3 linked regions of the Homo sapiens genome follow. The protein of the gene in region 1 purifies or fractionates together with the protein of each later gene. This does not show direct contact. Each region holds a gene or a part of one and is shown on either strand. Other genes may lie near its edges.

Region 1 (4,640 bases):
TAAGATGATTTGCCCACAGTGAACGGAGTGGTGAAGCTGGGACAAGACCTCAGGTCTCCCAACTTTCACTCAAGGTATTTTCCCTATATTGCATTAAATTCTGCAAACTAACAAACATGACATGACTCCTACTAAGTGACCTACTCTGAATGCCTCTGAAGGAGTTGACCTTGATAACTTCTCCTCTTCAAAAGTAATAATGCACCCAACAGCAATATAACCATTACAAGAATTTAAAACAAAACTAAAATTTAACAGGAAAAATCTGGCTTCATCTGGCAGTTGCGGCAGTTGCATTCTCCTGGGTATCGTCTTATATGACATTGGAATCACCTGGGGGAGCTTTAATAGTCATTGGCTGGGCCCTATTACCAGAGATTCATATTTAATAGTTCTGGGGTGTGGCATGGACATACGATTTTAAAAAATCTTGCGGCCAAAGAACGCCTAGCTTAACTCCTCACTATCCTTTTTCTCCATTGAGCAATTAAATCAAGGGTCCCCAAGCCACAGGCTGTGGACCAGTCCATGGCCTATTAATAACTGGGCAGCACAGCAGGACGTGAGCGGGGGCGAGCCAGTATTACCACCTGAGCTCCGCCTCCTGTCAGATCAGCAGCATTAGATTCTCATAGTAGTACAAACCCTCTTGTGAATTGTGCAAGTGAGGGGTCTAGGTTGCCCAGTCCTTGCGAGAATCTAATGCCTAAAGATCTGAGATGGAACAGTTTCATCCGGAAACTACCCAGGTCCGTGGAAAAATTGTCTTCCACGAAACCAGTCTCCAGTGCCAAAATGGCTGGGGACTGCTGTCCTAAATGGTAGCATTTTTCTTAGCCCTCTATAAGTCACACATTGATAATCTTTCCCTTCAGAGTATTTCAAGCTCTAAGTATTTCCCAAAGTTCTTTCTTTAGCCCTCATTTATCTCCTGCATTTCCACCCCACTAATTCACCTATATGTCTAGCCACACTTCAAATTCTTTCTAAAACTGTATTTATTGCATTTCTTCAATACTAATTTCTAAAGCCTTTCCGCTTGGCTCATTACTGGCTAATGCTGCTCTCCCAGTGAATTTAGCAGGAAATCCTCAGTTATCTTTAGCAGCTGCCTTTCTCTCTCTCCTCACCAACCTAATCCAATGTTACCCACAAAATGGGCAGAGAATTATGGCTGTGTTTGTGTGAATAGGAAGGTAAAGGATAAGTCCTCACTAACTGGCATGTCACTAAAGTTCTTTTAAAGTTTGGCTCCAATCCCCTTTAAATCCTATTTTTCCTTTACTTCCCTGTTAAAGTCCTAATTCTTTAAAGCCCAACACAACATGTTCATTAAACTACCCCTAAATCACCAAAGTGAAATCTCTTGGGGTCAGATTTTCAGACTCAGCTAATCTTAAGTGGAACAGCAATGTAACTCTAATATATACTTGGCTAGTGGTTTGGGAAAATATAAAAACACTGAAACAACAAATATGTAATGGAGAATAAAGAGGGGACAAATCTGGGGTCCAGGCCACCTGCATTTACAGGGAAAGGAAAGAGAAGTCTAGACTGCAAGAAGCTAGCTTAGAAAGGCAAGAGCTTCCTGATAAAACAAAAAACAGATGGGCTCGGTTTTAACTACGTCCGAGGAAGCCTGGAAAAAGGCTGAGCTACATCTGGTGAGGGAACACATCCTAGTCCATCCTCGTCACCTCCATGTGTACTTGATGGTATGTTAAGGGCGAATCTGCTTAGTATGTTCTGCTTTTGTTTTGTAAAGATGCTTATGCTGTCAAGTTACCAGAAAGAAAATGAGAAGTTACATTGCTTGTCATGAGTTGGATGGTGATAGTCACAACTGTAAAAACAGTGCAGGTACCAGGATCCAATCTCATTTTTCCTAACAAGAAATTACTGTTAAGTCCGCAAAATGGGACTTGGTCATGGGCCTACTAAGGCCAATTAGAACTTGTAATTTGGTTTAAAACACCAGCAAATGCAACACATACGTAGTATTCAGAAAACATGAAATATGGCATTATAATAAGGATAACAGTTAGTTGCTATACAGAATCTGGTGGTGAGGGGAGTTGTTTAATTTTGCCATTATTGTCAAATCTACAGAGTTAATTAATGCCATGGCCCAGAGGAAGGAAAGGAGACATACACTGTTCTAGTCTGTTTCTGTACCTGCAACATGATGGTGAGGGGAGTGTACCTTCATGGTCTGAGGCAGGAAATATCCACATGAAATAAAGTACTGAGAAGTACCCAGAACAACTAAAAACATGTAGTTTGGTCAGTCCCTGGAAGTGTGAGGCTAGAATGGAAGGAGTTAGGATGAGAACATGGAGAATCACTTGGGCTTAGCGTGAGCCACAGCAATTCAAGGCCAGGAGTGCAAGAATAGAGCAGGTGACCAATGCACAGCATCCTGCCTGAAAAGTGCTCCTGACACCCTGGAAGTCAAGCCTAGGGGGCAGCGGAGTTTAGGAGCAGGAGAGTTACAGGTGTTTAATGCTTCCTGGGCTAAAACCCCCGAATTATCTGTATTAAATGTATAACGTTTACTATCCATATTGCTGTGCATGTTAAACTCAAAAACTAATTTGTGTAGAAAGGCACTGACCTAAAGTAAGTTTTATTTAGCCTTAAAGAATTGGTAAATCAGAGCAATTCATTCAATACACAGCATCTACTAGAAGCTAAGAAGATATTGTAATTCCTCTAGATGGGAAAGTTAGGGGCAGGAGGAAAAGAACAACATGTAGGGAAGGTGGCATTGGGGGTGAGTCTTTAAAGAGGCACAGGACTGTGACGAGAGAAGGTTCTATGGGGAGGAGTACAGAGGGAAGTAGTAAATTACATGTAAAAAAGGAACATGTGAAAAGCTACATGAAGGCATCTCAATCCCTCTAAAGATATATTTGGAAAGAAAGAAATGGGTGGAAAATGAAGATGACAGATCAGGGCTATGTTTTAGAACAGTGGGTCTCAACCCTGGATGCATGTAAGAATCACCAGGGACCTTTAAAAAACCCATTGTCCAGGCTTCCCCTCAGACTAGAGTCCAGGCCCTGAAGTTAAAAAAAAAAAAAAAAAAGAAGCCTCAAGTGGATTTCATCATGCAACCAAAGATGTGAACTTGTCCTTTCAGAGGATTAGTTTGGATTTACATAAAAGGAAAACATTTATTAACATTTGTTCTTCCTGTTGATTTAAATATGTATATTTGTTTTTAATTCAGAAGGCCTGCTAAATGCCACTTGATTAGTAAACCCAATTACTCTCCCTTACTGTTAGAGCAGTGAGGAGTTATATTGTTGCAAATAATAAAGATAACTTACTCATTTTTGTTTTCCAACAGATAATGATGGTTGCAGGGCCCCTCTTCAATGGAGGCATTGCCAGCCTTCTGGCCATGAAGGAGAAAGTGATTTCAACTAACCCAGGAAACTCTTACCTCTAAATGGAGATACTTCCTGATAACAGAAGAAACTGGGCATCTAACCCAGAAATACCAGCTGAGTAGGAGAAGAGAAAAGGCATCAGCCAGTCAAGGTTTCAGAAGGCTGCCAACAGTAAGTACCACTTTGCCCTCTGCTGGCACTTTCTGAGAAAAACATCATCTAGCTCTTGGGGAAGAGTCCCTCCAAATAAGTGTCTTCAGTGGGCAAAGGGAGAGAAGACTAGGAGGCAGCGGTCCTAATTCCCACATCAAATTGCACATTTAAACAATAACATAGTTTTTTTTTCTTTGTATAAGAGCCCAGATAGTATAAAAGGACTCGCTTTAAAAAATATCTTAAACAAAGCTGCCCAGAACTTTGACTTTCAGTACTACTTTTTTTTTGTGGACAGTACCTTATTGTAGCAACTCAATATGGTCATGTGACAGAGAAATAGGGGTATGACAATGTTTGTTTCTTTATTAGACATTTAAGCAGCAGCCATTCTCTATTTTTACACAAGAAAGTGATTTGGGCTTATGGGGAAGGTGGTTCACTGTTCCTCTTGCTAAGATCCTCCTGGCCCCTTCCACTGACGATGTTCCACAAGGAATCCTAAATTCTTGGGTCCTAGAGACTGGCGTCCAGTCAAGCACAGCTCAGAGCAAGCCAATAAATACAGGGGGAGTGAGTTGAGGCTTTAAAGATAGCAAAGGGATGGGCCCTAGACTGTTTTCCAACCAGAAGGCTCAGTGCTGACTCCAGGTCACCTTCTTAGGTCATCCTCCAAATTTTGCTGGGCTTCTAAATTGTTCCCAGTTGAACAAAAAAAGGCAGACATTATGATAGAGTGAGCTTGAAAGCCATGCTTTTCTTCACAGGACATCATGTTAAATATTTTGTATTAGAGCCCCCAGCCGTGTAAATTCCCACTCCCATACCTGCTCTCCCAATGCATGCAGCTCACATAGTTCCACATGTAATAGCCAGGATCAAAACTTAATGAAGCAGTGAGGGAGCGGGGCTGTGGGGCCCAGTGCCGCTAGGTGATCAGATAAAGCTTAATAACTTAATAGTCTCACCATGCTTACTTTATAATCCTGCTCTCTGCGCCCCACCTTCCCACCCACACACAGGTCTTTGCCGTTCTCATCTACTCCCAAGGTGGCTTACAATCAATCAACATGGTTTGGTGAACAAACCATA
Region 2 (4,995 bases), on another chromosome or scaffold:
AGTATAAGCAATCTTCTCACTTATAATTTACCCCTCATTTTCTTGAATATTCAAAATAGCACTGCTAATTTTTAACAGAAGATAATCAGCTTTAAATATCTTCCTGAGCTGAAGATAATTATCACTTGCTTAGAGTAAGAAGCCCAAAAACAGGTATTCGCCACTCCGCTGCCAAACTCTTAAATCTTTGGTGTTTCTGCCCTCCCTAACCAACTCGAGTCTGCTCATTTAAAGAGCCACACATGGGTATATCTCAGGGCTCAGAATCAGTATTTCCTGAAACTGCCTTACTTTACTCCATCTGGGACTTGAGATAAGTCTAGAGCCAAAGCTATTTACTATCAAATGAAAGGAGAGGAACAACAGAAGCTCTTGGTACTGGTATAGGCACTTCTCAGTTAGAAAAACAGCTTTTTAAGTAATTCTACACTTAAAACGTTTGTAGGCAGGCAGGTCTTTTTGTCTTGCTTTTCTCTCTAGTAAAATCCAGTACTCAGCCCTCTTGGCCCTAAATTCTTATAATTCCTATAATTTCTCTCTCTAAAAAGGGAAAGATTGATTGACTGACTGATGTATGCTGGATCTCCAACAAATGTGCATGAACATTCAGTTAAGAGAAGTGTGTTCATTCTAGCAGTGAGCAGAATCCTGTGTTTATGTTCCCATTTATAAGTGTGTTTCTTCTTCCCAATAGAGACATTACAGTCAGCATAGCGGGCACATAACAGACACTTAATGTTTGCTGAATGACCAAATTCATGAGTTGAGATGGGCAATTTATAAATTGAATCAGTCTTGCTAATATACTTTTCAAATAGCATGCCTAGCAAAATAAAAACAAACACAAAAATCAAATTAATTCTATTAACAAAGCCTGGACCCAGCCACATTATCACTGGAACCAAAATTCAGTGATAATAAGACTTCATTATTGTTATCAGCTATACTTTCCAAAGTAATCTAATAGGAATTTCTTTAAGACAAATTTTTCTTTAAGCATCAAATCATTAAAAATTATTTACAAATTCTAATTAAGGAGGTCCTCCCCAAGAGTTGGTTAACCCAGGATTTCAATTAACTGACAATTCCTTGCTTTCTCTCAATAATATAACACAGAGAATCATACTCATCAGCTGGGCACGGTGGCTCATGCCTGTAATCCCAGCACTTTGGGAGGCCAAGGCAGGTGGATCACTTGAGGTCAGGAGTTCAAGACCAGCCTGGCTAATATGGTGAAACCCCATCTCTACTAAAAATACATAAACTAGCCAGATGCGGTGGTGGGCTTCTGTAGTCCCAGCTACTCAGGAGGCTGAGGCAAGGGAATTGCTTGGACCTGGAAGGCGGAAGTTGCAGTGAGTCGAGATCGTGCCACTGCACTCCAGCCTGGGCAACAGAGCGAGACTCTGTCTCAAAAAAGAAAAAAAAAAAAAAAAAAAAAAAAATCACTCATCAAACTCTTAGAGAAAATGGATTTTTACAAAGACTGTATAGATGGTAGTCTGGCCATTTAACAAAGCGGGGTGGGGTTAACATTTGCTGACACAGTTTACGTACCTTTTTAGGGCTTTCTCATGCCAAAATGCTGTTAGTCACTTCCAAACAAGAGACCAAGATTTAGAGGAGAAAGCTAGGAAAAAGGGAGGCAGAGGAATAGGGTAAGTCAGTGATCCTACTTAGAGTAAAATGAGCTTGATGTCTTAAGGATATACCTACATCTCTCTCCTTGACTTGCAAATTACATCTTCTATAATTCAATGTCTTCCATTTCCAGTTTTCTTAATAAAGTTAAGTGGAACCTAACCTCCCTGAACATACACTACTGTCAGTTTAGTACTTACAGAATTTTACACTTAGGGACATCTAGAAGCAATCTCTTGTTAATGGTAAGTGTATATAGCACTTTACCATTGTATCGTTTATATATATATATATATATATATATATATATATATATATATATATATATGCTTTAAAAATATTAAATGGACAATTTGTGCAGAAAGATACAGGGAAAAAGCATAAGCATTTAAAGTCTCAAAGCATGGGCTCAAATTCTGGTCCTGTCATTCATAAACTATCTTTGTCTCTGAACAAGTCATTTCACCTCTCTATCCTTTGGTTTCTTCTTTAATATGTCTGACAACTCTAGGGTACTTAGCAGCACAAGCTTGTGGATCTTCAACTTGGTGCTGCTGAGACTTCCAGCTCATCTTAAAAGTTAACTGCACCATGTCAAGTGTATGCACTTACATATTTTGTAGAGTACTGTTTTTTTTTTTTTTTTTTTTTTTTGAGACAGAGTTTCACTCTGTCACCCAGGCTGGGGTGCAGTGGCGTACCTCCACCCAGGTTCAAGCGATTCCCCTTCCTCAGCCTCTCGAGTACTGGGATTATAGGCACCTGCCACCACGCCTGGCTATTTTGTATTTTTAGTAGAGATGGGGGTTTCACCATGTTGGTCAGTTTGGTTTCAAACTCCTGACCTCAGGTGATCCACCCGCCTCAGCCTCCCAAAGTGCTGGGATTACAGGCGTGAGCCACTGTGCCTGGCCAGAGTACTGTTTCTTAATACAGAAATTTATAAAATGGGTAAGAAGTAACTTTTTCTACACATAGATAGACAGTATACAGCAGGAGATAGTGCTCAGTTTGGAAGGAAAAAAACCTCAGTTTGAATTTTTGCTCAGCTGGATGCTATCATTTCAGTTTTGTAAATCTCTATTTCTAAACTAGTGAGAAACAGAAATACTGAAGTACTCACTTCCCCAGATTAAGAGTACTAACTGCATATAAAATAGTTACTACAGTGGCTAACACATAATAACCATTCTATTCATATTGTTATTAATATTTTAGCCAAAATTCTAGGAACCTGACATGGAATCGATTGCAACTAGGGTGAGGCAAACCAGATGCCTAGAACACAAAATTTTGCTCTGATTTGCATGACTGAGAGAGTTAGTGCTTCTTCAAAGTTTGTACCCTAGGCATATCTCTTGCCTCACCCTAGTCCTGCCCCTGCATAACATACACAATGAGAGTCAAACACTGATATCACAATGTCATAAAGGCCACCTACATAGCATATTTTCAAAACCTTTTATCTCCCATTTGCCAAAATGGATGCATAAATACACTTAGTTTTGGCTTACATAAAAGAATTTGGCCATCAGGTGCATTTTAAAACTTTTTGCCAAACCAATGTTAAAATTACTTTTCTAAATGTACATAGATAAACTTAACAAAGGAAACCATGGCCCAGAAGCAGGCTGGGTAGCAGGCTGGGTTGCACACTGAAATCAAGATGTGATCAAAGCCCTTGAGATAATTCATAAAAGGTTTATAATCTGTACAAGATAATCAAAAGTTGACAACAAAATTAAAGAGCTCATTACCTCAGAATTAGCTGATGGGAAATGGAAACAGTAACAAAATAGTAACAATTGGCTCCTACGATATTTCAAAGCAACTTGTTCAGGGGGAAAAACATACATCTCTTTAGTTGTGACAATCCTCATTTTTTTTTCCTATGTCTAAATTTTTGGTAAATTCTGATCTGAGTAAAATTTAAATGAAAACACTTGTTGGAAGACAGGAAACAAATCTGTCCCCTTGAATATGTTCATCTTTTGCCCATAAAGTTCTCAACCTAATGGTTCATGAATAATGCCTAGTTGAATAGTTGTTTGGTGTTTAATTGAGGTACATGTCTATTTTCCTTTTTATTAGTATTATTCCTTGTCTTAGTTTCTCCAATACGATGTTAATTAAAGCTTTCCTTTAAAATCCCTTAGAAATTCAACTAAACTTAATTCCTCAGAGTGTTAGGTCCTCTCTGCTTAAAGGTACAATTAAAAGAATCTGTACCACCCTGGATCAGAGCTACTTGCTTTGTATCACTTATAATCTTAGATACCTAGAATTTAACTTAATGACTCCTAATGGCTTAAGATCCTCTAAAACATGCAACAGGTACTTTCATTACTTTACACAATTTCTTTGCACCAAAAACACTGCCACAGGGCACTCAAATGTTGACAGAAACTATTAGCCCCAGACAATAAATAGCCTCTGCCTTATTTAACATTAGGTGCTAATGAGGCCAAGGTTCTATCTTGATGATGACATTTAACTTTACCTTTAGCTCCCAATTGATCTCAAATACAAATACTATTTCTTACAAGAAGAAATTAGGGCTAGGATAGTATCTGTTTTTACTGCATCTACTGTTCCTCCTGTAACCTTCACTTCGCAAAAGTGTGATTTATTTTTTAAGGGAGCATACCAAAAATAAGGTAGAACCTTGGAAATCTCTCAAATTTTGACAGTACTGCATAAATACCGATTTTAATATGGATAAAGACATAGAGAAAGATGTGCAGTTCTCAATAAAAAAAAAAAAAGGATTCCAAATGCTTTGGAATTAAATGAAAAAAAGCCTAGCAACAATCTAAACTCGTATAGGGTGCAGTTGCTGTCTAGAGGCCAGGTCTGACTCATTTAACATTCCCAACTGGCTTCTGTTGTAGTAACCTTATATAAGTCTGAGGAGGCAGCCGGTGTGTAACATCTTAGGGTTTTGTCATTCCATAACTTCAATCTCAGTTGAATTCCAGTCTATCTTGAAGTAAGAGAGAATGACTGAATAAGACAGGGAGACCCATTTCAGTGCCAGGGACCAGATGGCAGTTAGAGAAACAATCATTTATTTTTCTATCAGCTCTAACCTAAAATTGTAAAATGAACTGATGCACATGGAAGTACTTAGTATATTAGAAAGACTAAATGTCCATACAATGGTCTTTCAACCCTTTCCCCTTGTATCTACTGAAGTATAAACTCCCTAAAGAGAAGTTGTATCCATTTCTCTATTTCCTAGTATCCAACACAGTATTCTGCATAGTCAGTCTAAGTCAGCAACAGTGTTAGTTGGAGATATGGTGATGAAAAGTCAAACAGCACATACCCTTGAAGGTATGTAGTCTTGGCAGG
Region 3 (4,995 bases), about 12 Mb from region 1:
AAAGTACGAGAACTACTGATACCCCAATACCCCCCTAGAGTCAACAGACCATGCTACTTTCAACAACATCTACCCCCAGTACCCTAGACCTTCCTCTGCAAGCTCGTAGGTCCCACATCAGTGCTTCAGGACACAAAAATAATAATGGTACACAGAAATGTTTCTGGAAATCAGGAGATTTTTATAGTCTTTTGGGTACTCACTTGGTGTAGGAGTGGTAGGTTCCTACTTAAAAGGGTATATAGCCCAATGACACCTTGACTATGAAACTCCACTAATAAGGACTCAATTTTCAAGAGGCCAGTGGGAAGGATTCATGAGGCTGGGGAATGGGGGAAGACTGGATCCGTTCTGACCATGTCTCTTGTTCACAGAATTTTAGCCCATTAGAGCAGGAAGGGCCCACAGAAACCATCTAACCCAACAACCTCAGGAAAAAATTAAGCCCGAAAGAGAAATGACTTGTTGCTCAAAGTCCTACAGTTGGCTAAAAACACAAAAGTTCTTTGAGGAAAAGTGGAAGAAACTCAAGGAAAAAAGAAATCCATAGAAAGAACCCAAAGTAGTCACTGGGAGTTGTCCATGGCCTAGGGGCTCTAGGTTACATTATGACCACCAGGCACCATCCCTCATTCCAAGCTACCTGCTCCTCTGGCCCCCTAGGAACCACTCTGTAGCCAGTTCCAGCCATTCAGTCACTTACTGCCCCAGGGTGAATCCGATGAACTTGTTCCTGCTCATCTCCAAGAAGTGCTCAATGTCCTTCTGTCTGAGAGGATGGTGGAAAGACCAATCCCAGAGAAGGGAAGAAAAGCAAACTTTGAGAGAGAAAAACTTTCCGGGCTCCTATCCCTCCAATCAGAGGACTGGAGCAGTGGAAAAAGGCAGCAATCAACAGAAGGAATTTCAAACCCAGGAGTTCTGACTGCCAGACCAACTTAACGAGCCTTGAATACATAGACTACCCCATCTTGGGCCTTTGGAGACTGAAACCCCGAAGCATAGGGGTCCCTGATGCTATCAAACCTACCTGACCTTTGGGGCCCAGGGCAGGCCCTTGGGAAAAGCCACCCGCTCAGCAGAGAGGGGTGCCTGTGAGGGTGGAGGTGGCACCAGAGGGTCCTGCTCTAGCAGGTCTAGCTCTCCATCCAAGGTTCGTTCTCCATCACCAGCAGACTCCTCTTCCTCCTCTGTGGCGGGCTCCTCAGTCTTGAAGAGATCCCTTTCATTGTAGATGTCCAGGCTGTCCTGCTTAGTGAGGAGTTGCTGGAGGGGAAAGAAGGGAGGGTAGGCATGCAGAGATCTCACTCTGGGCATCCTTGTCTGAGGCCACCCCATATCCACAGGCCTCCACATTTCAGGGAACATGGAATCTGAACACAGCCCTTGCGAAAACATCCAATTCCCCACCTTAACCTACTGTCCCCACCCGGCCCAATAACAGGACAAGAAGTTCTCAGGTAACCCTGCCATTAGCCAGGGAACATAGCATAGATAATCCCAAAGTCACAATTACTTAGCTTTCAGAAAGCAGTGATGCCTTTTTTTGCCAGCACTTTCCTTCCTAATTATGCTCTGCTTAGGTGAACATTCAATTAGTTTGCCTTCTGTGAGCATACACCAGCTGGCTGACTGAGGAAGAGGAGGACAGAAGCTTGCTGCTAGGCAGAGGGAAGCAAGTTTGGAATTTTAAATCTTGTGACAAAGAAAAAAAGATTGGACAGAAATAGGCCAAAAAGTTAACAGTGACTGTCTCTGGTTGTTAAGATTGTGGGTGATTTTTCTTTTCTCCCTTCATCACATTTTTATATTTGTTCCAAATTTTCTACAATGAGTAAGCATTACTTTATAAAACAAAAATAAAGTTAAAAAATTTTATTGCAGATAATGGAGACTGGATTACTGAGCACTACTATCTAGCCCTGTTGATAAACTGAAGTGGGTCAGGCAGGGGAGTTTGTAAGAACATAGTCAGATCTCAGTATAACTTTTCATTCTGACCTTTTCAGGACAGCAGACTATAGTCATGTGCTGCACAACGATGCTTCAGTCAACAATGGACTGCATATGTAATTGTGGACCCATAAGATTATAATACTGTATTTTTATTGGCCTTTTCTAGGTTGAGATACACAAACACCATTGGGTTACAATTGCATATGGTGTTCGGTATAGTAACCTGCTGTACAGGTTTGTAGTCTAGGAACAATAGGCTATATGCCTAGGTGTGCAGTAGGCTATACCATCTGGGTTTGTGTAAGTACACTCTATGATGTTTGCTCAGTGACAAAATTGCATAATGACACATTTTTCAGATTGTATCCCTGTCGTTTAGTGTCACATGGTTATATACATAGACCCCTACCCAGTCATCTCTTAAATGTAAGCCTTTGGTTCCAGGGCCAGTTAAGAGTGTGGCTGGCTGACAGTAAAACTTCCTGGTGCTTCAAAATAGTAAAATGCCTTACCCCAGAAAAATGGATTTGCTTGGAGACCTGTTCCGGTATCCTGGGTCCCTATCCCCAGGATTATACCCTTAATTGTTATTCAGAATGTAAGGAACTCCAGGCACTGAGGTCCAGGCCAATGATTCTGTAGCAAGACATGGCTATATATGACATGATATCACAGTGTCACATCACAACAGCGCAGGGGGCTGTCAGGGCTGGGGGACAGAGGCCAAACTAGAGACCCTAAGATTTCAGGTTGGTCATAGGGCCAACCTGGGCAGGATGAGCCGGGTCATTTACTGCTTTTTCCTACCACACCCAGAGTAACTTAGAATCTTGATTTTTGGCCAGTCGGTGTCCCAATACCATTGTCTGCTTCAGTCCATACCCTTCGAGAGCCACGGCGGCCTCGCAGCTTGGAGGGTGGGGGTGCCAGCTGAGACTCTCCCAGGTCAAGAGTGTAAGAGGGCGGGGAGGCAGCACGCATGCTCTTCACCACCTGGATACTGTCTTCAGCCAGTGGAGGCAGGCCCAATTCTGCCCGCTTCTGTACTTTGAGAGTCTGCAGATGCTCAAATCCACCGAGGGTAAACTAAGGAAGAAACAGGAAAGGGGCAGAGAGAGAGGAAGGAAGGGAAGTAAGAGAGAGCCAAGGTCAGGGAAACATGGATGAAAAGAAAGGGCCACAACCTCCAGTCCCTTCAGACCTTTTCCTTAATAAGGAGGTAGTAAAACATAAAGAGGCAAATATGATTACCATCCCCACGGCAACTGAGGAGCTCAGGGGTCAGGATAAGGCATTATTTACTGCCCCAGTATGGGAAATATCACAGAATTTAGGAAAGGAATTCCTGCGGGCCTCCTCAAAAAAAAAAAAAAAGAAAAAAAAGAAACTATCGACTTTTTTAAGGAACACCATCCAGGTGCTATAAACCCCCAGAGTCACTCAATTTCCTCTGCAGTCAAGAGGCAGTTCCCCCTATTAGGCCTGCCTTGTGAGATGGGAGCCAAAAATGAAGGATCAGGTTGAATAACTAGTAACAGAAATGTAACCACATATTTATAAGAACTTCATTATTTTTTAAAAAGCAAATCCTGGCCAGGCACAATGGCTCATGCCTGTAATCCCAACATTTTGGGAAGCCAAGGTGAAAGGATTGCTTGAGACCAGGAGTTCAAGACCAGCCCAGGCAACACAGGGAGGCCTGTCTGTAAGAAAAAATTATTTTTATTAAAAAAAAAATACAAAACCTCTGTTTATCTGGAGGGAGGGCAGGCACTCACCCCAACCTTTTACAGCTAGAGAAATTGAGGCACAGAGAGTTGCCCAAAGTTTCTCAGTATCAGCAAAGCCCAGATCTACCAACTTTCAACCAGTGTTCTCTCCATCAAACATTGGCTTTAATAAGAGAAGGTACCACTGACATCCCCAATTTATGGAGTGGCATCTCCCATCCATCCAATAGAAACATGAAACCCATTCTAACATAGAACATCTGATGTCTCTAGGACAGCCTTGTTGCCCCTCCATATTAGCAGTTGGCTAAGGGCTGCCTGTTCTGCTCCCTGGATCCAGCCTCCTGGAATGAGACTAGAAGAAACTGAGGTGGCATAGGGCATTGCTGATCTGATAATGTGGGAGTGGGGAGAATTACTCACCATGACCACCTTCCAGAGCAGGAGCAGGACCTTCTTTATGGGGAAGTGAGGAGCCAGGCCACTGCAGAACTTGGTAACCATGGAGAAGAGTAAAAGGGCAAAAGGCTCCTCATTATGCATGGAGAAGCCTAGGGGTGAGGAGAGAGGGGAGTGAGAAAGTGAGGATGAGGCAGCTAAAACCTTTTTCATGTAACCCTGATTCTGGACACACACAGGAAGGCACTCACCTCCCCTGAAGAATACCAGAGTACTTGGTCCTGAGAAGGAGGCTTAGCCCCCAGAAGGAAGCCCCTCAAGGGCAGGAAGGGACGCCATGGAATTAAAATGGCATAGGCCCCAGAGCTTAGGGTGACGCTTTGGGGTTGGATGCCAAACTAGAAGTAACAATAATGAAGACATTGCTTTCTGGCTAAAGGACTCAATGTCATTCACTTTTCCACATCAATAAATATATTTTTAAAATCCCATAGTCCTTCATATCCTATCCCTGTCAGATGACAACACCAACTTACATTTGAACAGAACTCAGTTTTCAAGGTGATTCAACTCATTTTTTCATGTGGGACTCGTGATAGAGTGGGAGAGGAATGGCTATCCCCACTTATAACCAAGGAAACCAAGGCATAGAGAAGTTACATGGCTGGTCTTAGCTCATAGATACAGGGCGGCAATCAAGCCCAGCCCTTGTGCCTGCCATGCAGTATCTGTGTCCTAAAAGAAAGGACATTAATTTTAAAAAAGAAAACAAAAGAAAAAACGACTGTCTGCCTCTCCTAGGCAGATGCTCTGCTTCCCCTCTCCCATTAGCACCCCATCCACACCTTCCTCAAGTGCCATTTCTTACTTAATTCAGTGCGGAAGGTCTCCCGGGCTGTTCTCCACCCAC

Evidence for each region.
Region 2: the proteins of CTTNBP2 (region 1) and PDCD10 purify together in Homo sapiens (affinity purification with mass spectrometry; one large-scale study listed by BioGRID and IntAct). This does not show direct contact.
Region 3: the proteins of CTTNBP2 (region 1) and STRIP2 purify together in Homo sapiens (affinity purification with mass spectrometry; one large-scale study listed by BioGRID and IntAct). This does not show direct contact.

What each region holds. Positions count from the first base shown.
Region 1 is NC_000007.14:117,712,406-117,717,045, forward strand, and holds part of CTTNBP2 (cortactin-binding protein 2), read right to left. Parts: exon of another isoform or gene 3,478-4,640; intron 1-3,477. UniProt on the Homo sapiens protein: Regulates the dendritic spine distribution of CTTN/cortactin in hippocampal neurons, and thus controls dendritic spinogenesis and dendritic spine maintenance.
Region 2 is NC_000003.12:167,723,844-167,728,838, forward strand, and holds part of PDCD10 (programmed cell death protein 10), read right to left. Parts: intron 1,631-4,995; exon of another isoform or gene 1,558-1,630; intron 1-1,557. UniProt on the Homo sapiens protein: Promotes cell proliferation. Modulates apoptotic pathways. Increases mitogen-activated protein kinase activity and STK26 activity. Important for cell migration, and for normal structure and assembly of the Golgi complex.
Region 3 is NC_000007.14:129,454,486-129,459,480, reverse strand, and holds part of STRIP2 (striatin-interacting protein 2), read right to left. Parts: coding exon 4,954-4,995; intron 4,238-4,953; coding exon 4,110-4,237; intron 3,043-4,109; coding exon 2,839-3,042; intron 2,782-2,838; exon of another isoform or gene 2,469-2,781; intron 1,659-2,468; exon of another isoform or gene 1,399-1,658; coding exon of another isoform or gene 1,267-1,398; coding exon 1,031-1,266; intron 770-1,030; coding exon 704-769; intron 1-703. UniProt on the Homo sapiens protein: Plays a role in the regulation of cell morphology and cytoskeletal organization. Required in the control of cell shape. Calmodulin-binding scaffolding protein which is the center of the striatin-interacting phosphatase and kinase (STRIPAK) complexes.